6 linked regions of the Homo sapiens genome follow. The protein of the gene in region 1 purifies or fractionates together with the protein of each later gene. This does not show direct contact. Each region holds a gene or a part of one and is shown in the gene's direction. Other genes may lie near its edges.

What was found.
Region 2: the proteins of PDAP1 (region 1) and KLHL36 purify together in Homo sapiens (affinity purification with mass spectrometry; one large-scale study listed by BioGRID and IntAct). This does not show direct contact.
Region 3: the proteins of PDAP1 (region 1) and PANK4 fractionate together in Homo sapiens (co-fractionation; one large-scale study listed by BioGRID). This does not show direct contact.
Region 4: the proteins of PDAP1 (region 1) and RAI1 purify together in Homo sapiens (affinity purification with mass spectrometry; one large-scale study listed by BioGRID and IntAct). This does not show direct contact.
Region 5: the proteins of PDAP1 (region 1) and TDG fractionate together in Homo sapiens (co-fractionation; one large-scale study listed by BioGRID). This does not show direct contact.
Region 6: the proteins of PDAP1 (region 1) and HMGN3 fractionate together in Homo sapiens (co-fractionation; one large-scale study listed by BioGRID). This does not show direct contact.

Annotation. Positions count from the first base shown.
Region 1 is NC_000007.14:99,398,598-99,402,292, reverse strand, and holds part of PDAP1 (28 kDa heat- and acid-stable phosphoprotein), read left to right. Parts: intron 1-1,868; coding exon 1,869-1,990; intron 1,991-3,695. UniProt on the Homo sapiens protein: Enhances PDGFA-stimulated cell growth in fibroblasts, but inhibits the mitogenic effect of PDGFB.
Region 2 is NC_000016.10:84,651,504-84,655,010, forward strand, and holds part of KLHL36 (kelch-like protein 36), read left to right. Parts: intron 1-3,507.
Region 3 is NC_000001.11:2,509,477-2,513,171, reverse strand, and holds part of PANK4 (4'-phosphopantetheine phosphatase), read left to right. Parts: intron 1-132; coding exon 133-284; intron 285-1,488; coding exon 1,489-1,544; intron 1,545-1,784; coding exon 1,785-1,834; intron 1,835-2,389; coding exon 2,390-2,494; intron 2,495-3,014; coding exon 3,015-3,115; intron 3,116-3,241; coding exon 3,242-3,310; intron 3,311-3,695. UniProt on the Homo sapiens protein: Phosphatase which shows a preference for 4'-phosphopantetheine and its oxidatively damaged forms (sulfonate or S-sulfonate), providing strong indirect evidence that the phosphatase activity pre-empts damage in the coenzyme A (CoA) pathway.
Region 4 is NC_000017.11:17,803,445-17,807,139, forward strand, and holds part of RAI1 (retinoic acid-induced protein 1), read left to right. Parts: intron 1-311; coding exon 312-405; intron 406-3,695. UniProt on the Homo sapiens protein: Transcriptional regulator of the circadian clock components: CLOCK, BMAL1, BMAL2, PER1/3, CRY1/2, NR1D1/2 and RORA/C. Positively regulates the transcriptional activity of CLOCK a core component of the circadian clock.
Region 5 is NC_000012.12:103,968,872-103,972,371, forward strand, and holds part of TDG (G/T mismatch-specific thymine DNA glycosylase), read left to right. Parts: intron 1-3,488; exon of another isoform or gene 3,489-3,500. UniProt on the Homo sapiens protein: DNA glycosylase that plays a key role in active DNA demethylation: specifically recognizes and binds 5-formylcytosine (5fC) and 5-carboxylcytosine (5caC) in the context of CpG sites and mediates their excision through base-excision repair (BER) to install an unmethylated cytosine.
Region 6 is NC_000006.12:79,207,084-79,210,778, reverse strand, and holds part of HMGN3 (high mobility group nucleosome-binding domain-containing protein 3), read left to right. Parts: intron 1-2,202; coding exon 2,203-2,232; intron 2,233-3,695. UniProt on the Homo sapiens protein: Binds to nucleosomes, regulating chromatin structure and consequently, chromatin-dependent processes such as transcription, DNA replication and DNA repair.

The DNA of each region.
Region 1 (3,695 bases):
CTGGGGGAGGCCTTGAAGGGATTGAGAGACATGACCAGATATGCTTTTTTTTTTTTTTTTTTTTGGGAGATGGAGTCTCTCTGTCGCCCAGGCTGGAGTGCAGTGGTGCGATCTCGGCTCACTGCAAGCTCCGCCTCCCGGGTTCAGGCCATTCTTCTGCCTCAGCCTTCCGAATAGCTGGGACTACCGTAGAGGTAGCGTTTCACCATGTCAGCCAGGATGGTCTCAATCTCCTGACCTCGTGATCTGCCTGCCTTGGCCTCTCAAAGGGCTGGGATTACAGGCGTGAGCCACTGCGCCCAGCCTCCAGATATGCTTTTAAAAGATTATTTTACTTTGGGAAGCCAAGGTGGGTGGATCACAAGGTCAGGAGATCGAGACCATCCTGGCTAACACAGTGAAACCCCGTCTCTACTAAAAATACAAAAATTAGCCAGGTGTGGTGGCAGGCGCCTGTAGTCCCAGCTACTTGGGAGGCTGAGGCAGGAGAATGGCGTGAACCCGGGAGGCGGAGTGCAGTGAGCCAAGACTATGCCACTGCACTCCAGCCTGGGCGACAGAGTGAGACTCCGTCTCAAAAAAAAAAAAAAAAGATTATTTTAGCTTCTTCATGGAGAGTGAATGATAGGATGTTGAGAGTAAGAGCAGTGTTCAGATCAGAAATCCTGGGCCGGGTGTGGTGGCTCACACCTGTAATCCCAGCACTTTGGGAGGCCAAGGCGGGCGGATCACCTGAGGTCGAGATTTCGAGACCAGCCTGACCAACATGGAGAAAACCTGTCTCTACTAAAAATACAAAATTAGTCGGGGGTGGTGGTTCATGCCTGTAATCCCAAATACTCAGGCTGAGGCAGGAGAATTGCTTGAACCCAGGAGACCGAGGTTGTGGTGAGCCGAGATTGTGCCATTGCCCTCCAGCCTGGGCAAGAAGAGGGAAACTCTGTCTCAAAAGAAAAAAAATCGTGGCTTGCCCTAGGATGGTGACAATGGCAGTGGAGAAGAGTGGACAAATTTAAGCTGTATTTGGGGGTTGCTGAAGGAACGACGAATCAAGGATATGCTTAGGATTGCAGGGAGGGTCCGGTTGGGTAAAGGATGAATCTCGAGTTCTGTCTTGGACATGTTAAGTTTACAGTGCCAGGCATCTGAGTGGAGGTGTAAGTGTGCAGCTGGACTGGAAGTGTGTGGAGGGAGCTCTGTGGAGTGGAAGCTGTCTCCCTGCCCCCTTAAGGAGAATTGATGGAATTGACAGGGCCTGAAACTTTGACCAAACCTGCTGCATTGAGAACACACCCCCTTCTTCTGGAACTTCTGCAGGGGAGGTGGAAGGTGCAGATTCCAGGTTTTTGGGCCAGCGTCCCAAACCTGTAGAGTGTGTGATCCAGTAGCTTATTCTTGGGTTACAAGTCCAGTCCATCAGCTAAGGTGGGTGGGAATTGGAATTAGTCATGACAGCACACACTTGGCCCACCCTGCCCTGGGGATTCCAGCCCAGCGCTTTTTGCAAGAAGAATCAGGCATGGGATTCCATGGAAAACTGCTTTTGGAAGCCGAGCTTGAAGTAGGGGAGTAGTGCTGTGTGAGTGCTTGCAAGTCGGGGTAGGGCGCACCTCTCATCTACCACCTACTTCCTGGTTGACTTGGGCAAGTTATTCGACCCCGAGCAGCCGTTCTGTGGGCTCTTCCCAGGCTGATGAAGATGCTCCAGAGAGCTATACCCACTGTGAGACTTGGGCTGAGCACTACGTGGGCTGGGGTGGAGCAGGAGTTTGTCCTCATCCAGATGGGCTGTTGAGAGATGGCAGGAGTGGCCCTCAGGGGCTCCACAGGACCTGAACTCCAACAACCAGCTTCTTGCCCTGTTCTAGCAAAAGCGCAAAGGCGTTGAAGGGCTCATCGACATCGAGAACCCCAACCGGGTGGCACAGACAACCAAAAAGGTCACACAACTGGATCTGGACGGGCCAAAGGAGCTTTCGAGGAGAGAACGGTAACATCACTGGCTGGGCCTTGTGTCACGGGGAATACAGGCCAGCAGTTGGCCTGTGGGATGCTAAGGTCCCCAGCTGGCTGGGAGCTGTGGCTGTTTATTTCTGTCTCATTCCCCAATGGCCCTCCAGTAGCCTTTAAAAAGCCACACAGAATTTGTTTTCACCAATTGATACATGATATCAGGGGAAATAGGACAACAGGCTCAGACCTGAGCATAACACTTGAGGTAATGGTGCAGGATACAGAGGGTTGCCCTCCATTCCCCTCTTCCAGAGCACCACACCCTGGGGAGACTTCCCTTACCCCACTGATCTGACCATTCCTGACCTGCATCCATCTGTAATGTCGTGGCCATGGGGACTGGAAGGGGGCTGCGAGCCTGTGCCGGCCAGAAGGCAGTCCAGCCCAGCGCAGCTCAGCCAGCTGTCCCAGGCCTCTGCAAGTCCTGTGTGAAAATGAAGCTGTAAATATCTTCCTCAAGAGTCGTATGAGGATCAAGATCATGTACTGAAGTGCCTGGCACAGGATCAGTCCTTGACTGGTGCCCTGACTTTTGGCAGCCACCAGGTGACCTCAAGGGCCTTACAAGAGGTTGAAGCCTGCTAGTTTCTCTCCTGACTGGGAATTTAGGATAATGGCTGAGGGGTGTGTCTGTGAAAGCCTCGTGGGGAAGGCCATGAGCTTGGGTGTGATTGCAGCTGCTAAGGACCCTTCTGTCCCCCTTCAGTAGCTTCCTCTTGGCATTGACTTCAAAAACCCAGCAACCTGGGTGTTCTGCCACTGTGGTATTCTGCCATTGGCAGCTGTGCAGCCTTCGATAAGGCTGTGCCTTTCTGGGCATCAGTGTCCTCTCCAGTAAAAGGGATCCTGTTGCTCCCTCCTTCTGTCCTTTGGGGTTGCAGAGACACCCTGCCTGGCATTTTGCTTTCACTGAAGGGCCCTGCAGAGTCTTTGGGCTGCCTTAGTCATCATTCCTGAGGCTCAGCTTAGAGGCTTCTGAGTGTGGCACATCCCTCCTGAGCTAGGATCTGCGGTTCGCCAGGTATTATCTCCTCAGCTCTGTAGTGAGGCATCTGCTCTTCCCACTCGGGAGTCCCTCTCCCTCCCCTCTAGCTAGCTCCCATGCCTGGTTTCTCATTACTCCCCAGTTCTGTGTACCTTGAAGGCCTCTGGGAGGCCGAGTCTCTCTCCCAGCCTCCTGCCAGGCAGGGCCCTCCCCTCCTCCAGCACTTGGCTCTTCCAGGAACCCAGTGCAAATAGGCCCTCCGATCTCATCCTGAAGGGCATCCACTCCAGTTCAGAATCTCAAGCTTGGGAAGATCCTCAAAAGGAAGCTAATGACCCTCACCACTGACTCTACTTAGGGGGTTCATTCCTGACACTTTGTCCCATGGGAGCCCAGCAATTATTCCCATCTCCCTACTGATGGGGGCTGTCCCCTTGGGGGGCAGCACCGTGCACATCTGAGCTGCTCTAAGAATGGGCCATGTGGTGTTGACCTGAGACTGGGTGTGTCTGTTTCCCACTGTGGTCCTCATCCTATGCCCTGTGGCTGCTTCCTCCACTTCTTCATTCCTTTTTTTGTTTGTATTTTTTAGAGATAGGATTTCACTCTGTCACCCAGGCTGGAGTGCAGTGGTGCAATTGTAGCTCACTGCAGCCTTGAACTTCTGGGCTCAAGCAATCCGCCTGCCTCAGCCTCC
Region 2 (3,507 bases), on another chromosome or scaffold:
TATACTTTCCACAAACTCCTGTCCCCACAGCTGCTGTTGGTAAAGAGTGGGGGAGCCATTGGTATGAGGTTCCTGGTAACCTGTTTCCCCGTTATAAATATTCGTAATGCCCTCTGTTCTTTAGAGGTATCCCTTTTGGAGATTAAATCTTATGGTTACCTCAGATCATGGATTCTCAATGAGTATGATATTGCCCTGAAGTGGGAGAAAATTGGTTCTCGGGAGGGTGGAAGGAATTTTACTCCTTTTATGCATAAGACACAATTATACATACAGTACATGAGCAGACATACAGTGCATCTGTGATGTTAAGATTTTGCTGGGGAGGCTATTAGGGAAAAAAATCTTAAAAGCCTTCTTGTGGGGCAATAATGAAAAAAGATACAGAAACACTTCTTTAGATGAAGGGAGCTGGCAGCAGCCTATAGAGTTGAGAAAAAGGGGGAAAGAGATTCTACAGATTCTAAAAGAAAAACTGGCTGTCATTTTCAAGAGAGGTTGGCTCTCTTGAGATATGACCTCCTGTTCTCACGTGAGTTCCCCAAGAAGGTTCCTGCCAAGCCCAGCTTTATCGATTGTGAAAACCCAGAGAGGTCTCGCCGCTCGCTCACAAGGGCTTTGTTTGGGAGCTTAGCTTGGGAGACACTGCTGCTTTCTAAGTTTGACAGCACTGGAAGTCTTTGTCCATTAATGCCAGGACCCTGAGTTTGTTTCTGTCTGAACTGAATCTCTTAGGACTAGGCTTCTGTATCACTGGATGATGTTTCTAACTTTTTTTTTTTTTCGAGACAGGGTCTTGCTCTGTCACTTAGGTTGGAGTACAGTGGTGCGATCATAGCTCACTGCAGCCTCTACCTCCTGGGCTCAAGTGAGCCTCCCACCTCAGCCTCCTGAGGAGCTGGGAATACAGGTGCATGCCACCATGCCCAGCTAATTTTTGTATTTTTAGTAGAGACGGGGTTTCACCATGTTGGCCAGGATGGTCTTGATCTCTTGACCTCGTGACCCGCCAGCCTTGGCCTCCCAAAGTGCTGGGATTACAGGCGCGAGCCACCATGACTGGCCTGTTTCTAACTTTTTATTTTTAAAAAGTGTACCCATTAATTTCTAGACATTAAACACACCTATGTTGCCAGCACCCAGATGGGTAAAAAACAGAATACTACCAAACCCTCCCAGTTGTTACACTCAAGATAGTCGCTGTCCCAACCCCACCGCTGTGGTTTGATCTGCTTTTGAACTTTGTCTAAACGGGATCCGAGGTCGGGTACTCTTGTGTGTGGTTTCTTTTGTGCAACATTGTGCCTCTGAGCCTCACCCGTGTTGCTGCATGTAGTTGGTAGTGGTAGGTTTTGCTTTCTCAGCATGTTGGTGTCTTCCCACTGTGTGGCCACAGTGTCTGTTCACCTGTCTGCCCTAAGATGTGTTGCTCAGCCAGGCACAGTGGCTCACGCCTGTAATCCCAGCACCCTGGGAGGCCGAGGCGGGAGGATCTCGTAAGCTCGGAGTTTGAGACCAGCTTGGACAACACGGCTAAACCTCATCTCTACAAAAGATACAAAAATTAGCCGAGCCTGGTGGCATACACCTGTAGTCCCAGCTCCTCAGGAGGCCGAGGTGGGAGGCTCACTTGAGCCCAGGAGGTAGAGGTTGCAGTGAGCTATGATCGCACCACTGTACTCCAACCTAAGTGACAGAGCGAGACCCTGTCTCAAAAAAAAAAAGTGTTGTTCCTTTTTGATGCTAAATTCTTTTTCCACGTCTAATACCTGGTACCTGCCGCCTCCTCCCAGGTGTAAGCCCCCGACAACCTGAGTTTCTCCCTCTACTTGGCCTTGCATCTGATTAAGGCACTGAAATAGGAAATAAAGAAATGAACAAGACTCATATCATCAGAGAATGCTGTGGATTGGAGCTTCTAAGTTACCTGAAATGCGGAAACTCTGTTACCAATGTCCCTTTATAATTGGGAAATAGGCCAGGCGCAGTGGCTCACGCCTGGAATCCTAGAACTTTGGGAGGCTGAGGTGGATGGATCACTTGAAGTCAGGAGTTCGAGGCCAACATGGTGAAACCCCGTCTCTACTGATATATGTATATATGCCGGGAGTGGTGGCACCTGAGGTCAGGAGTTTAAGACCAGCCTGGCCAAAATGGCAAAACCCTGTCTCTACTAAAAAGACAAAATTAGCTGGGCATGGTGGTACATGCCGGTAGTCCCAGCTACTCAGGAGGCTGAGGCAGGAGAATCGCCTGAACCTGGGAGGCGGAGGTTGCAGTGAGCCGAGATCGAGCCACTGCACTCCAGCCTGGGCAACAGAGGGAGGCTCTGTATCCAAAAAAAAAAAAAAAAAAAGGGAACTCGTGTGCCTGTGTTTTTGGAAAGTTGTCTATGCAGCTGTGCTAAAACACCAGAAGCAGATTGCAGCTGATTGTACCCGGGTACAGCATCACTCCAGCCCACTTAGAGCAGAAACCCAGTTTTGGAAACAACACTGCTCTTGCCCCCTGCCCCAGCTCACTGGAGCTGGTGTCTCCCCTCGGCAGCCGTTCACTGGGGCTTTCCCCAGTCCTGCCCCCTGGGCTCTTTCCCTTTTGACACTGCAGTCTGGGGTTGTGTGTATCTCCGTCTAAGCATGGTAGGGCCAGCACCCTCACCAGCGTGGAGACAGCCAGGGTCCCCGGGTGGCAGATAGCCGCCTCATGCCCTCATATGCGTCTCTCAGGCCGCTAAGCCTGTACTATGACTTGATCACCGCCACTGTAGTACTTTTTAATTTCCTTCCTTCAGCTCACACCCAAGAGGGGCCTCCAGTCAATGTCTGTAGAAGCACTGACCATTCCTGCATAATTAGAAGCTGAGGCCTAGCACGGTGGCTTATACCTGTAATCCCAGCACATTGGGAGGCTGAGGCAGGAGGATCGTTTGAACTCAGGAGCTGAAGACCAGCCTGGGCAATGTAGTGAGACCCCATTTCTACAAAAAATAAAAGTAAAAAATAGCTGGATATGGTGGCACACACCTGTAGTCCCAGCTGCCAAGGAAGCTGAAGTGGAGGGATTGCTTGAGACTAGTTTTGTTTTGTTTTGTTTTGTTTTGTTTTGTTTTGTTTTGTTTTGTTTTGTTTTGTTTTTGAGATGGCGTTTTGTTCGTGTTGCCCAGGCTGGAGTGCAGTGGCTCACTGCAACCTCCGCCTCCGGAGTGCAAGTGATTCTCCTGCGTCAGCCTCCTGAGTAGCTAGGATGACAGGCGCCCGCCACCACAACCAGCTAATTTTGTATTTTTACTAGAGACGGGGTTTCACCATGTTGGTCAGGCTGGTCTCGAACTCCTGACCTCAGGTGACCTGCCCACCTCGGCCTCCCAAAGTACTGGGATTCCAGGCATGAGCCACCACGCCCGGCTGAGCCTAGGAGTTTCAGGCCGCAGTGATCTCTGATCTACTGTTGCATGCCAGCCTGGGAAACAGAGCAAGACCCTGTTTCTAAAAATGAGAAAAAATTTAA
Region 3 (3,695 bases), on another chromosome or scaffold:
TGGTGGGGTCCCAGTTGGGCCTGAGTCTTCGATCCTGAGGGGCGTGGTATGGAACAGGCTGCGCCTGGCAGGTGTCCAGGGTGGGCTGAGGCCACGTCTTCACTCAGGCCTGGCATCTGGCACTCTCCACAGGTGAAGCAGCGGGAGAATGGCGTGGCGCTGAGGTGCTTCCCCGGGGTCGTGCGCTCCCTGGACGCGCTGGGCTGGGAGGAACGGCAGCTGGCGCTGGTGAAAGGCCTCCTGGCGGGGAATGTCTTCGACTGGGGGGCCAAAGCCGTGTCTGCGTAGGTGTCTGCGGGCTCGGAGCAGGCTCTGCAGCCTGTGGGTGCCTGTCCTGCCCCAGGCTTGCGGGCAAGGAGGTGGAGCGGGTCCCTTGGGGGTCACGTGGCGCTTGGTGGCTTGGTGGCTCAGGGCTTTGGGGCCCAGGGAGTGCACATGGCAGCAGCGCCAGGGGCTGGGCAGGGCGCAGCGCCCTTGTCTGTCCCCTCAGGTTCTGAGGAGGCCCCTTCCTTAAGCATGGGTGCCGCAGAGGCCTAAGGGTGTGGATTTGAAAATCGGGGCTGGCATTTTCTATTGTCAGAATCCAAATTCATGTTTCCTATGTGTGGTAGGAATTAAACATTTCTGATGTGATGATCAAAGGGTGCTTTGCAAAGCAGTCCCCTAGACTGGCCTGTAGGACACGCAGGTGTCTAGCACCTGGCGCCGTCTCCTGGGGCTCTGAATCTTGAAAATGAACCCCCCCACCATCATTTACCTTCACTCCCAAAGAAGCTGCTTCCAGTCTCTGGGCCTCCCCAGGCGGCCGCACCACCTCTCGTGGTCCCTGCTTTTTTTCATGTGGGGCTGGAGGGAAATGCCTGGGTTCTCAGCCCTCCCTGGGTCCCACTCGTGTCTCGAGACATAGATGAGAACGCCGCCTCCAACCATGGCTGCCCCTCTGGGACACAGGCCCCTCCCGCAGCCTGTCAGGAGCATTGGAGGAGGGTCCTGACCCATGGGATTGGCCTTGTGGCTGGGGGCTCCCCACACCGCCTGCATGGGTGCCAAGCACAGGGACCATACTGCGGCTGCCAGTCACCGAGAGGCTTCCCTGGCCCCGTGGCTCCGAGTCCACCTTGAGAAACAGCCTGTGCTCTCTCAGACCTTTGCTTGGTGGCCCCCTGAGCCTTCTGCGGATCGCAGCATGTTAAGAACGCTGTATCTGTTCTGCCTGGGAGTGATTTGGGGTCTTCACGTTGAGCAGCTGCCTCTGTCCCACCTGGGAGGGATTTGGGGTCTTAGCAGCTGCCTCTGTCCTGCCTGGGAGTGATTTGGGGTCTTCACGTTGAGCAGCTGCCCCTGTCCCACCTGGGAGGGATTTGGGATCTTTACATTGAGCAGCTGCCTCTGTCCCGCCTGGGAGGGATTTGGGGTCTTCACATTGAGCACTGTGGCTGAAGGTTTTTGTTCTGTTGTCTTAATTTTCTTTTCTCCTCCTCCATGCAGTGTCCTTGAATCCGACCCCTACTTTGGGTTTGAAGAAGCAAAGAGGAAGTTACAAGGTACGGATGGCCAAGTAACTTGGGGCCTTGCCTTGTGCTGGGGCCATGCCTGGACGTTCTCTGCAACAGCGAATGCAGTTGCGGTCGGGGTCCAGGCACCTCCCCTGCTCAAGGCTCTGTCAGCTGGGCTTCGGGGGCGGGGAGAACTTGCTTCCTGGAGAGACGAACACCTGAAGACGCGTCTCCCTGACCCCTGACCTGGAGCACCGGGCTAATCATGTGTCCCTCTCTCTGTCTCAGAAAGACCCTGGCTCGTGGATTCCTACAGCGAGTGGCTTCAGAGATTAAAGGTATGTGGAGGGGCCTCCCACCTCTGCTGCTGGGGACACAGCGGGGCCCGGGGGGGTGGTCACTGGAGGGAGGTGGGCATGGGCTGCCTCGGGTGGCCCTCCCCTCCTGTTAGAGTCTCACCATCCTGCGAGCCAAGGGTCTCAGCATCCCCTGCCCCACACTTGCCCTCCTGTCGTGACTGCTTCTTAGGTCACCTGCTCTAGGCACAAAGCCTTGCCAGAAGAGACAGGCACTGGCCCCTGCAGGCCAATCCGTCCCTGGCGCCTCTGGGGTCCTGAAGCCCCAGTCTCAGCCCCTGCAGGCTGGCCCGTCCCGGTGCCTCTGGGGTCCTGAAGTCCCGGTCTCAGCCCCTGCAGCCCAGCCCAGTCCCGGCACCTCTGGGGCCCTGAAGCCCCTGGTCTCGGCCCCTGCAGGACAGCCCATCCCTGGCATCTCTGGGGCCCTGAAGCCCCCAGTCTCGGCCCCTGCAGGGCAGCGTGACGGGCAGCAGGGGTGCGGACTGACTCGCTTGGATGCGCCTGTTCCCAACTGAACGTCCTGGTTTTGTCTTACAGGGGCCCCCTCATAAATGTGCCTTAATTTTCGCAGATAACAGTGGAATAGACATCATTTTGGGAGTCTTCCCCTTTGTCAGGGAGCTACTCCTTAGAGGGACAGAGGTGAGTGTTGAGGTGGTGGGTGGGGCCCTTCCCCTGGGCTTCTCTGCTCTCGGTGGGGTTGGCGCCGCTGTGGGCCTCTGGCGGTGGTCGGGGCTCCTCCGGACGCAGCAGGTAGGTGCAGGCAGCAGCACGGGGGAGGCGGCCCAGAGCCGTCATCTGCTGGGGTGGAGGCTCCGAGCCCCCTGGGCTCAGGCTGAGGGTCCATGTGCTGAAGCCCAGGGTTGACGCCAGGCTCCTGGAAGGGTGCTCACAGCAAGGAGGCTTTGGGGCTGTGACTTCACAGACAGGCAGGTCCCAGGGGCAGGCTCTAAACTCAGCTCTGCCCCTCGGCTCAGCTCCCTCCCAGGGGCCACAGAGTGGCAAGGTCAGGCGAGGTCCCTGCTCCTCAGCAGCAGGTGGCTGGCCAGGCCCGCTGGGCACAGCACCCTCACCCAGCCCAGCCACTCGAAGGCCGGGGTGCACGCAGGCTCCATGCTGGGCCAGCACAGGTTCCTAAAGAGCCTGGGCCCTCCTCCTGCAGGTCATCCTGGCGTGCAACTCAGGCCCCGCCCTGAACGACGTGACCCACAGCGAGTCCCTCATCGTGGCAGAGCGTATTGCGGGCATGGACCCTGTCGTGCAGTGAGTGTTGGCGGGCAGTGCTGGGGGGGCCTTGATGGGGAGGGGCACCAGCTGGGCAGAGTGGGCCATGGGGATTGTCACTGAACTGGGAGCTCCTGGGGGCACTGACCACCTTGTATCTGGCAGCTCTGCGCTCCAGGAAGAGAGGCTGCTGCTGGTGCAGACGGGCTCCAGCTCCCCGTGCCTCGACCTCAGGTAACCCCGCACCCTGCACCTGTTCTCTCCCTCCTGGGCTCTGTGCCCTCTGTGCCGTGCACCTGCACCCAGGTGCATGCGGGACACCGACCTCAGGACTGCCCCTGCGGCCTCTCCTGACCCCAGGCCCGGATTGATCTCAGGAGGGGACAGATATGCCATCCCCGAAGGTGGCCTGGGGAGGGTGAATGGATTCAGGGTCTGAGGTGGTTACACATGGGCTGGGTTTGGGGACTTGGGGCAAGAGGGGCCAATGTCCCTGTGGCCACTCAGCTGAGACCGAGGGCGACCTGGGCAGCTGCCCGGTGTCTGTCACCTCCGTGTCCCACATAGATGCCAGGCTCTGCTTCTGTGGTTCTGGAGGTCATTAGTCAATTGTATGTGG
Region 4 (3,695 bases), on another chromosome or scaffold:
TACAGGCAGTGGCGTCATCTCGGCTCACTGCAGCCTCAACCTCCCAGGCTGCAGCAATCCTCCCACCTCACCTTCCTGAGTAGCTGGGACTACAGGCACACACCACCAACCCTCACTATTTTTTGTAGAGACAGTTTCACCATGTTGCCCAGGCTGGTATCAAACTCCTGGACTCAGGCGATCCTCCCACCTTGGCCTCCCAGAGTGCTGGGATTACAGGCATGAGCCACTGCACCTGGCCTACCAGCCTGTAAAGCTTGAGGGCTGGGCTCCAACTGGAGACTCACCTGCCTTTCCTTTCTCTTCATCAGATGTGTTCCAGCTGCCAAGAAGCCGGGGCCACCATTGGGTGCTGCCACAAAGGATGCCTCCACACCTACCACTACCCGTGTGCCAGCGATGCAGGTACGAGCCCGCCCAGGAACAGGAGGGCATTGGAGCCCATCCAAGCAGTCCAGGGGGACCCTCCCTGGGCACAGCTCCCCAAACCCAGGCCCCATCTCACTCTTCAGTTTCCCTCCTCTCTTGCCCCAGCAATTCTTTTATCCTTCTGTCTGCCTAGACCTCTGCTGGGCAATGCCAGGGACATGGAAATGAGGCATTCCCCAGGCACCTGCTTGAGGAGTGCCCAGAGCAGTGAGGGAAGATAGAAGCATAAATTACAATGTGGAATGCTGTCTGCGGAGCCATCATTGCCAAGGGGCAGGGAGGATCTCAGGCCTCAGAGAGAAAGGGGTATTGGAGGTTGGGCCTTTGAAGGATAAATAGGAGTTCACTCAGCAGAGACAAGGGGAAAGGCACTACTACAACAGCAAAAACCAACTGAGTTGGGGGTGATGAGGTTCAAAACAGACTGAGACCCATGGAGCAATTGTGGAAGTTTTGAAGCAGGGTAATGGGGTATGGAGGTAGGCCCAGGCTCCCCGCATCCTCTCCCCGGTCCTTCCTCTCACTCATGTATTCATTTGTTCCGCAAGCATTTGTTGAGCCCCTACCATCACTGGGCACACAGAATGACCGTGCATGGGCTGGAGCCACCCAAGAGCCCTTACCTTTATCGACCAGGTGGGGAAACTGAGGCTCAGAGACATTCCTTATTTCATCCAGAGAAAGCAATTGCTTATGGTACAATATTAGTCATTGGGGACAACAATATTTTGGGAGATATGGGGCCAACTTTGGCCTGGATTCAAACCCTAGTGGTGGGGGGTGGGGTGGTTTTCGTTCTTGTTTGAGACAGAGTTTTGCTCTGTCACCCAAGCTAGAGTGCAGGGGTGCAGTCGTGGCTCACTGCAGCCTTAACCTCCTGGGCTCAATCATCCTCCCACCTCAGCCTCCTGAGCAGCTGAGACCACAGATGTGCGCAGCCATGCTGGCTCCTAGTAGTGTTTTTATTTTTATTTATTTATTTATTTATTTATTTATTTATTTATTTTTGAGACGGAGTCTCACTCTGTCACCAGGCTGGAGTGCAGTGGTGCGATCTTGGCTCACTGCAACCTCCGCCTCCCGAGTTCAAGCGATTCTCCTGCCTCAGCCTCTCAAGTAGCTGGGACTACAGGCGTGCACCACCACGCTCAGCTAATTTTTGTATTTTTTGTAGAGATGGGGTTTCACTGCTTTGGACAGGATGGTCTCCATCTCTTGACCTCGTGATCCGCCCGCCTCAGCTGCCTAAAGTGCTGGGATTACAGGCGTGAGCCACTGTGCCCGGCCCCTAGTAGCGTTTTTAATGTGTGGTCTTGAGCAAGTTGGTTGATACCTCTGCACACAGTTTCCCTACCTGTATGATGGAGATGATAATAGCCCCTTCTCTGCAGAGCTGCTGGGAGGAGAGTGAAATAATGAACACTACCCACACGGTGCTGCCTCAGTCCTATTTTGGGTCCAGCCTCTGTGACCTCTCCCCACACGGTGCTGCCTCAGTCCTATTTTGGGTCCAGCCTCTGTGACCTCTCCCCGTCACCCTCAATCCCTCCCAACTCTGGCCTGGAAAGAGGCGAAGTCATAACCCACCTCCCAGTGGACAGAGTCCAGGCCCCCCCAGGCTCCCGTCGCTCTCCTAGCAGCCCCAGCTACTGCCTCCCGTCCTCACCTGATGCCCTGCTGGCTTTGCCTGGACAGGGGACCACAGCCTGTACCCCACCTGCCTGGTGGGTCCCCAGCCAGTGTCAGCCCAGCCAAGCTGCCCCAGGGAGGACACAGAGGACTCTGAGTGCTGACAGTTGCTTGGCAGGGGCTGAGCTGCCGGGACCCAGCGGGGAAGGGGCTTGCTGGAGCAGGGACGTGGAGGATTCTCACTGGCTTCACGCTCCCACTCTGAGCAGTGTGAGCCAGAGTTTAACATGGACCCTGCCACTTGCCCAGGCATGTGGCCGCACTCCCCATAATAGCTGCCACGAGTCACATTCCTCCTTCCACAGTGATTAACTTAGCGCCCGCTCCACTCCCAGCCCTGCTACAGAACCATGTTGTTTCCAGCCATCTTCACAGATTGGCTGCCTCACCCACAGCACACAGCATGGCGTGGACAGTCCCAGGACTTAATGCCTTGGCTTTCTTGCTCCATGTCCTATGTTCTTTCTCCTACCCCAGCACTGCCCAGCCCCCCAAGGGGCTCACCCTTGAGTGGGACGGACAGCAAAACTGTGGTTCTTGGCCACAGTTAGGGAGACCAGACGGGAAGGAGAGAGTATGCACTGTGGAAGAGGTTCATCCTGTCTGAACAAGGGAGAAATCTAGGAAGACTTCCAGGAGGAGGTGACATTTAAGCCAGGCCTCAAAAGATCGGGGGAGCTTTGTAGCAACTGTTTAGTGGTGGGACTTGTATACTAGGCTTTGAGCAAGAGAACTTTTATTTCAGATAAAATCCTAGAAGGATTCCTCATATAACAGGGATCCCTGTAGCACCGTGAAGATTGAGGCAGGAAAGGGACTGGGAATGCTGCAAATGGAGACATACACCTCAGAGACTGAGTTGGCACAGAATCCATGGGACTTGATGATGAGGGAGAGGGAGGTGACAAGCCTGATGCCCAGCTTCCCCATGAAGGGGAGAAGTAGGGTGTGGACGTGCAAATGGAGTATTAGCTGCTGCTGCAGAGCTACTGGCCCTTCCAGGCCCAGCTTCATGTCTCCAGCACCAGCCCTTCATTAGTTCTCAAAAGGGCGTGAGTTGGCTGCAGGCTCTGCTGGGAGCAGGATGATCTAGGGTGGCCCCAGCTGTGCCAGCTTGTCTTTGCTCCATCAATCTCTCATCCTCCAGCAGGCTGGCCTGGGTGCGTCCTCATGGCAGCCCCAGGGCTTTGAGAGAGTGGAGGTCACAGGGCCACTCACAGCCTAGGTCCTGGACTTTACCACGTTCTGTTAGCCAAAGCAGGTCCCAAGTCCAGCACAGAGAAGTGCAGGCCACCTGGGGTGAGCTGCAGAGCCACACCACAAAGGACCTGGGTGCGGGGAGGGGACTGGGCTGCTCTGCCAGGCCATCTACACACACGGCAGTTCCCTTTGGCCACACGGCAGTAGAGGCAGCTGTGGACATACAAAGTGTAGATAGCTGGGCTCAGGATCGAGTCTCGCCCACCATCAGCAGGCGAGGGCTCATCAGAGCCCTGGAAGGGACAAAATAGCAGGGTTGTGTTCACCATGGAACAGCTGGCTGAGGAGGAGGGTGGACCCCTGGGAAACTGAGGAAC
Region 5 (3,500 bases), on another chromosome or scaffold:
TAATCCCAGCACTTTGGGAGGCCAAGGCAAGTGGATCACCTGAAGTCAGGAGTTCAAGACCAGCCTGGCCAATATGGTGAAACCCCGTCTCTACTAAAAATACAAAATTAGCTGGGCATGGTGGCATAACTAGTGACCACTACACTACAGTATCAGTTCAGAAAGAAAGCAAGACCTATACTAGACAGGCAGCATCAGAAGGATGCTGGCAGGAGGTACCTACAGTAGTCATTATTATAGCAAATTTATTATATACCAGGTACTGTTTTGGATGTTTTACATAGGCCAACTAGCTTAATGCTCCTAACCAATTATTAGGTACTATTCCCATTTTACAGATGTGGAAGCATGGGCATAAAGAGATTAAGGAACTTGCCCACAGAGCTAGTAAATGGGAGAGCTGAAATTTGAATCCAGATGACCTAGCTTCAAAGTCTGCTTCTCTAGCTAGCAAATGTGCTTTACTGCCTCTCTTAGTGAGCAAGATGGAGATGGACTGATGGCAATCCAGTTAGGTGAAATAAAAACCTGACTTACTACTGAAAGAATCAGGCAGACTGAAGAGAGGTCTGTACTTATATGCCATGTATCTCTATCCCTAACTTTGTTCCTTTCAGTACCTTAACGTCAGGGTGCTGATGGCATGGTGATAAAATTTGTGAGTGACCCAAGCCTGGGAGGAATTTGTGGAATTAACTGATTGATTTAATCAGAGTCCAGATAAATCCTGACTGACTGGAATGGTGAATCATCTTTTACAAAGAAGAGGCACAATCCTATACTCAGCTGCAGAAAAATCAGTGATAAAGTGTGGAATGAGGGAGAAGTGATACAAGGACAGTGTTCGTTGATGGGAAACTCAGTGTGAATCAACAGTATAATGTGGGTGCCAGTATAGCTAGTGTCATGGGTTCTGCAGTTTGTCTCCAAAATGAGCAAGTTGGTAGCCCTGCTCATTTTCGGGCTGATGAGGCTTTATCTGGAGTTTTGTTTGATTCCGAGCACCAAAAAATGAAGAAATTTGAAATCATACTACATGAGGAATTATACTATTTGAGGAATACTGTATGAGGACTGGCTTATTCTAAATCTTTATATTTACAGTTTCTAGTAGACTGTACATATGGTGAATACACAGACCTCCATCTAGCAATACCAAATGGAATAATAGTTATGGTGCTATCGCATCATAATTTACATAACCAGACCCCTTTAGTTGAGCATTTGGATTATTTAGCCTTGTTCATTATTTTGTAAGTATTCAGTATGGTATATGCTTTTTTTAAGTGAAGATAATAAAATGTATTTAGAAAATAGCAACTTAGGCTGGGTGCAGTGGCTCACACCTGTAATCCCAGCACTTTGGGAGGCCAAGGTGGGAGGATCACTTGAGACCAGAAGTTCAAGACTAGCCTGGGCAACATAGTGAAGCCCCATCTCTACAAAAAATTTAAAATTTAGCCAGGCATAGATGCATGTACCTGTAGTCCCAGCTGCTCAGGAGACTGAGGTGAGAGGATTGTCTGAGCCCAGGTGTGTGTGGTTACTGTGAGCTATGATAGCACCACTGCACTCCAGCCTGGGTGGCAGCCAGACCCTGTCTCTTAAAAAAGAAAAAAGCAACTTAAATCCCTAAAATAGTGTAAAATAATTGAAGATAAAAGAAGTTGGAGTCATTAATTTTAGAGAAAACCTTAAAAATTTAGTTTTTTGAAATACAGCAAATCTAGCTAGGCATGGTGGTGTGTGCCTGTAGTCCTAGCTACTCAGGAGGCTGAGGCAGGAGGATCACTTGAGCCCAGGAGTTGGAGGCTGCAGCCAACTATGATCATGCCACTGCACTCCAGCATGGGTGACAGAGTGAGACCCCATCTCTTAAAAAAAAAATAATTAAAAAAATAAAAAAATAGCAAATCTGAATTAACTGGACTTCTTAATGAACTCTATGCGTGGAGTGTGTGTATGTGTGTTTTGAGAAAGACTATCAGAAAATATAGTCGACCTTCCATATCTATGGATTCTGCATCTAAGAATTCAACCAACTGTGGATTGAAATTATTTGGGAAAAAAAAAGACAAATAACAACATTAAAAAATGATACAGATAAAAAGAATGCAGGATGACAGCTACTTACATAGCATTTACATTGTATTAGGTATTATAAATAATGTAAAGATTATCTAAAGTATATGGGAGGATCTGCATAGGTTATATACAAATACTATGCCATTTTATATCAAGCGACTTGAGCATCCTTAGATATTGGTGTCTGTGAGGGGTTCTACAACCAGTCCCCCATGTATGCAAAACTAGGTACATACCACAGTCCATTTTTAGAAAGATTGATTAGTAACTAAAGGATGACTGTACACAATTCATCAGTTCCAGGCAGCTATAAGAAAACAATCTAGCCGGACACAGTGGCTCACACCTGTAATCCCAGCACTTTGGGGAAGCTAAGGCGGGCAGATCGTGAGGTCAGGAGTTTGACACCAGCCTGACCAACATGGTGAAACCCTGTCTCTACTAAAAATACAAAAATTAGCCCGGTGTAGGTGCCTGTAATCCCAGCTACTCAGGAGGCTGAGGCAGGAGAATCACTTGAACCCAGGAGGCAGAGGTTGCAGTGAGCCGAGATCATGCCATTGCACTCCAGCCTGGGTGACAGAGCGAGACTCTGTCTCAAAAACCAAACAAACAAAAAACAACAGAAAAACAATCTATGAGCGCTGCAGTTCAACAGAAGGTAAGTGCAAATGGAGGCTAGCAGAGAAAAAGGGGTAAACAGGAAAATGAGGGAGAGTGAGAGGTAGTGAAGAATATTTGAGACTAAGATAAATGATGGGGGAAGAAAAGTGAACGAAGAGAAATAAAATCAATCGTGCTTGTAAGTTTAACATCAGGAAGTTATACAAAGTAGAAAGTCTTTGGGGTCTGTTTTGAGTCTAGACAGATCTAGTCCTATTTCCTATACATTGTCCACATATGTAGAAATCACTGAATCTAATTCCTCATTTTCATGGTGAGGGAATGGATACCCCGAGAGGATAAATGACTAAATGCTCTTTGTTACTGTCCTTCTCATAGAGTTATTGCTCAGAAACATTGCAGAGTTCTGGATTATAAAGTAGCAACGATCATTATGCATACACAAATGTATTTAAGAAATATCCTCACACTGAGGTTGAAACAGGTTTATGCTGCTTATACATTTAGTTGTTATTATAATAGAAGATAAAATTATCCAGAACCCCCCTTTTTTTTTTAGACAGAGTCTTGCTCTGTCGCCCAGGCTGGAGTACAGTGGTACGATCTTGGCTTACTGCAGCCTCCGCCTCCCTAGTTCAAGCAATTCTCCTGCCTCAGCCTTCCCTGTATTTAGGATTACAGGCGCATGCCACGACGCCTGACTAAGTTTTGTATTTTTAGTAGAGATGGGGTTTCACCATGTTGGCCAGGCCGGTCTCGAACTCCTAACCTCGTGATCCAACCCCCTCGGC
Region 6 (3,695 bases), on another chromosome or scaffold:
TTTGCCTCACTTCATGGAGATTTTATTCAAGACAACTAGATGGCAGATAGGGAGGCAGTTTTGAGTAATGGCTAACATGTTTGGACCCTTTTCAGGCCCCAAACTAAAGAGTAACTGAGTAGTGGCTCTAGGACTTCTTCCCCTCCCTACAAGTTCACAGTTGCTGTATGTTTCTGGTGCTTACCCCTTCTGTTCATCTCAACACTTATTGAGGGCCCCTGCTACATATTGGAGCCATAGAAATATAAGAGAAGGTGGTCCTGTGCAAGGAGGTATGGAGACGTGTCAGATGAGGTGAACGTGAGGCAAGACCAGCATGGTGCACATGAGTTGACATCAAGTGGAGAGAGAGTCAGATAAGGCTCTTTCACCTCTCTTTAGCATGGAGACTGTCACTTTCATCTTGGAAGGTATTGTTCTGCCTGCTGTAGTTTATGAGACATGGATAGTCCTTGAGGCCACACTGAAGCTTCAAAGCTGAGCTCTGTTGGGTAATTGGAAGGTGCTCTTTGCTCCTCTATGCTCAGAAAGTACATTAAAAAAACACAAGATACCTCTTATTGCCCGGTTTACTTGAAAATGTTGCCTTCAGTATACTTAATACGGTTAACCATGCTGGGAAAGGTATTGCAGGATTTGGATTCTGGTTCCCAGGGACTTATGGGTGCACTGTCAAGAATGCACCCTTGATAACCATAGCAGGCACTATGGTTCCTATGGAGAATCTGACACACACTCCTCCTGTACTAATTCACAGGGCTATGTGCTGAGTTGTACAAGCTTTTACTCTGTGCAGTGAGTGTATCCCACCCAATCACTTAACCTGCACAGCCTTTCATTCTCAGCACATTCTCCTAGCTGGCCTTAAGTCCAGCTCTGATCTTTCTTCGAGACTCCAGGGTTAAAAGTATTCATGGAGGCTCTGGCCCTTCGTTTCCTTCTGTAGTTTAAAGAAAGATGAGTTTAGCTTCTCTGGCTATTTTCAGCAAGAAAGTTCTTAGATGTGGAGATGGCAAGAAATATTTCTTCCAGTTTGGCCTGACTGGCTGACCTAGACTGACCTTAGCCCCACTTCAAGAATTCCATGATTCCTCATAATTATGGCATGGATTCCTACTGACCATTTTTGCTGTCCCCCTTAGGAAGAATTATTTGAAACATTTAAGCTATTGTAATGAGGCAAAGTCTGCATAAGGCAGTGAGAATTAGGGAAAGGCTTGGATTCATTTATTCAGCAAATACTGAGTTTGTACTATATGTTGGCCAGTACCCTACTGTACTGGAGATGGAGCAGTGAATAAAACAGACAAAAAGTATGGAGTATTTATTTCTAGGGCACTTTTTTTAAAAAGGCAGTTATGCTTTTAGAATGTGAAATCCCTTGGGGAGCCACCGTAGGTTGGATGGTAAGTAGAATATCAATTTTGTGTGTTATTGCTGAAATGCCTAGGACAGTTCTGTTAATTTAGATTTTCTTTTCAGGGTCATTTGCTGTTAACTTGTAATATCCTTGAAGAAAAAAAGATTTCCCCAAAATATCAATTTCTACACAGTTTCTCTGTAAATTTTCTAAACTTTGAAATTAAAAGAAAAAGTAATGCACTTTTAATTCTGGTTAAATCCTTTGAACATATACTACTAGATAAATGTGTTTGTTTTGTTATAGGTAAAAAGAAGCCTTTCTTGTTAACTGCCAAGATTTGTAGTCATTTTCATTTCTAACATAGCAGCAAGATGGGGAACTCCTGCTATTTTGGTTTCTACACAATTGCATAAGTCTCTTCTTGTATTAACTTAAAAGCTTTAGTTCCATTTTTAAGGAGCTGGAGTCAGACTGAAGACTAGCTCTTAAATAGCACCTCAATGTTCTTGCTGTTGATTTTGTCATAAAAGTAGAGGTTTTAATTTGGGATAAAGCCTAAGTTGATCTTCATTTCCCTTACTTATTCACCACACCCTTAGTTGGGAGAAGCCGTTTATTTGAACAGTATACCTACCCCTTTTTAGAAACACTTCCTCTTGAGTGTCATCGTGCCCAGGGGACTTGGGATATGTTTCACTGTGCTTACCTGGAGAAGGTGATGGGAATCATACATTATAGTCATTCAACAAAGTAAGGTATATTAAGAATAGATTTTTAAAAATCAACTTCGTTTTATATAATCACCAAAAAATATGTATATTTTCCCATTCCCTTTGTAGCCCACAAGACGGTCTGCCAGATTGTCAGCGGTAAGTACCTTAGAACCACTTCAGTGTTAGTTCTTATGAGTACATGTTCCCTTTGTCCAAAGTGAAGCAGCAAAAGGAAGATTAACATGGTTTCCCATGAGCTTATTTTCTTTTTGAAAATTACCTAGGGTCCTCATGTCTAGCAAATTTGACCAGTGTTGCCAAGCAATTCACTTGATCAAATGTGTCAGAAAAACAGTGGCCAGCCCCATAACGAAGAATATAAAGCAGGATGTTGTTTGACATTGCTAGATCTCTGAAACAAAAGTAGTATATTAGGCAAAGTTCCAGTCTTCAGATTGTACCTATGATGTGCTGAAGTGGACAGAATTCTGATTCTCTGTCCACAACTCATACTTTAGAATGTATGTATGAGAATGTTCTGAAAGTTGTCTGAGTCCATATACTGTAGCCTCATTTCAGACCTAAAGAATCTTTGTAATAGTAATAATTCTACTTTGCTATTTGGTGTCTCCTTCTGTGGGCCAGGAGATTCTTGTGGGGTTAGGATACAAGCTGAGATGGGCAGATGTGGCTGAGCCTCTGAGGTGGACATCCTTCAGCTCTTCCTCACCAACCTGTGCTCCTTACTGGTTCTTATGCTCTTCTCTTTTGCTGCTCTCCTGAGAGATTAGCTGGACTCTAGTGGAGGATTTTGGTTAAAATTCCTGCAGCCCAGACTTCCCACTGAGAAGGTAGAGGGAAAGGCATTGGCATTTTGGCTGACACTATATTAGTATATCCCCATACTAGCTATTACAGAAGCTTCATGCTACTTTGGTCTTCAGGAAAGCATGGATTTCATTCTCAACCCAAATCTGTGCCTGATACAATATAAGGAATCAAAGCAAAAATGGGTATTAGGACCACTCACAAGTTCAGAAATACAGCTGTTTGGATCAGGCAAGCCAGTGTTTCACGTGAGTCTCGTAAGGAAGTATATTAGTCTGTTTTCACACTCACTGCTGATAAAGACATACTCAAGACTGGGCATTTTACAAAAGAAGGAGGTTTAATTGGACTTATAGTTCCATGTGGCTGGGGAAGCCTCACAATCATGGTGGAAGACGAGGAGCAAGTCACATCTTATGTGGATGGCAGCAGGCAGAGAGAGAGCTTCTGCAGGGAAACTCCCATTTTTAAAACCATCAGATCTCACCAGACTCATTCACTTTCACAAGAACAGCACAGGAAAGACCCGCCCCATAATTCAATCACATCCCACCAGGTTCCTCCCATGACACATGGGAACTGTGGGAGTTATAATTCAAGATGACATTTGGGTGGGGACATAGCCAAACCATATCATTCTGCCCCCAGCCCCGCCCAAATCTCATGTCCTCACATTTCAAAACCAATCATGCCTTCCCAACAGTCCCCCAAATCTTAATTCATTTCAGCATTAACTCAAAAGTCCAAAGTCTCATCTGAGATAAGGCAATTCCCTTCCACTTGTGAGCCTG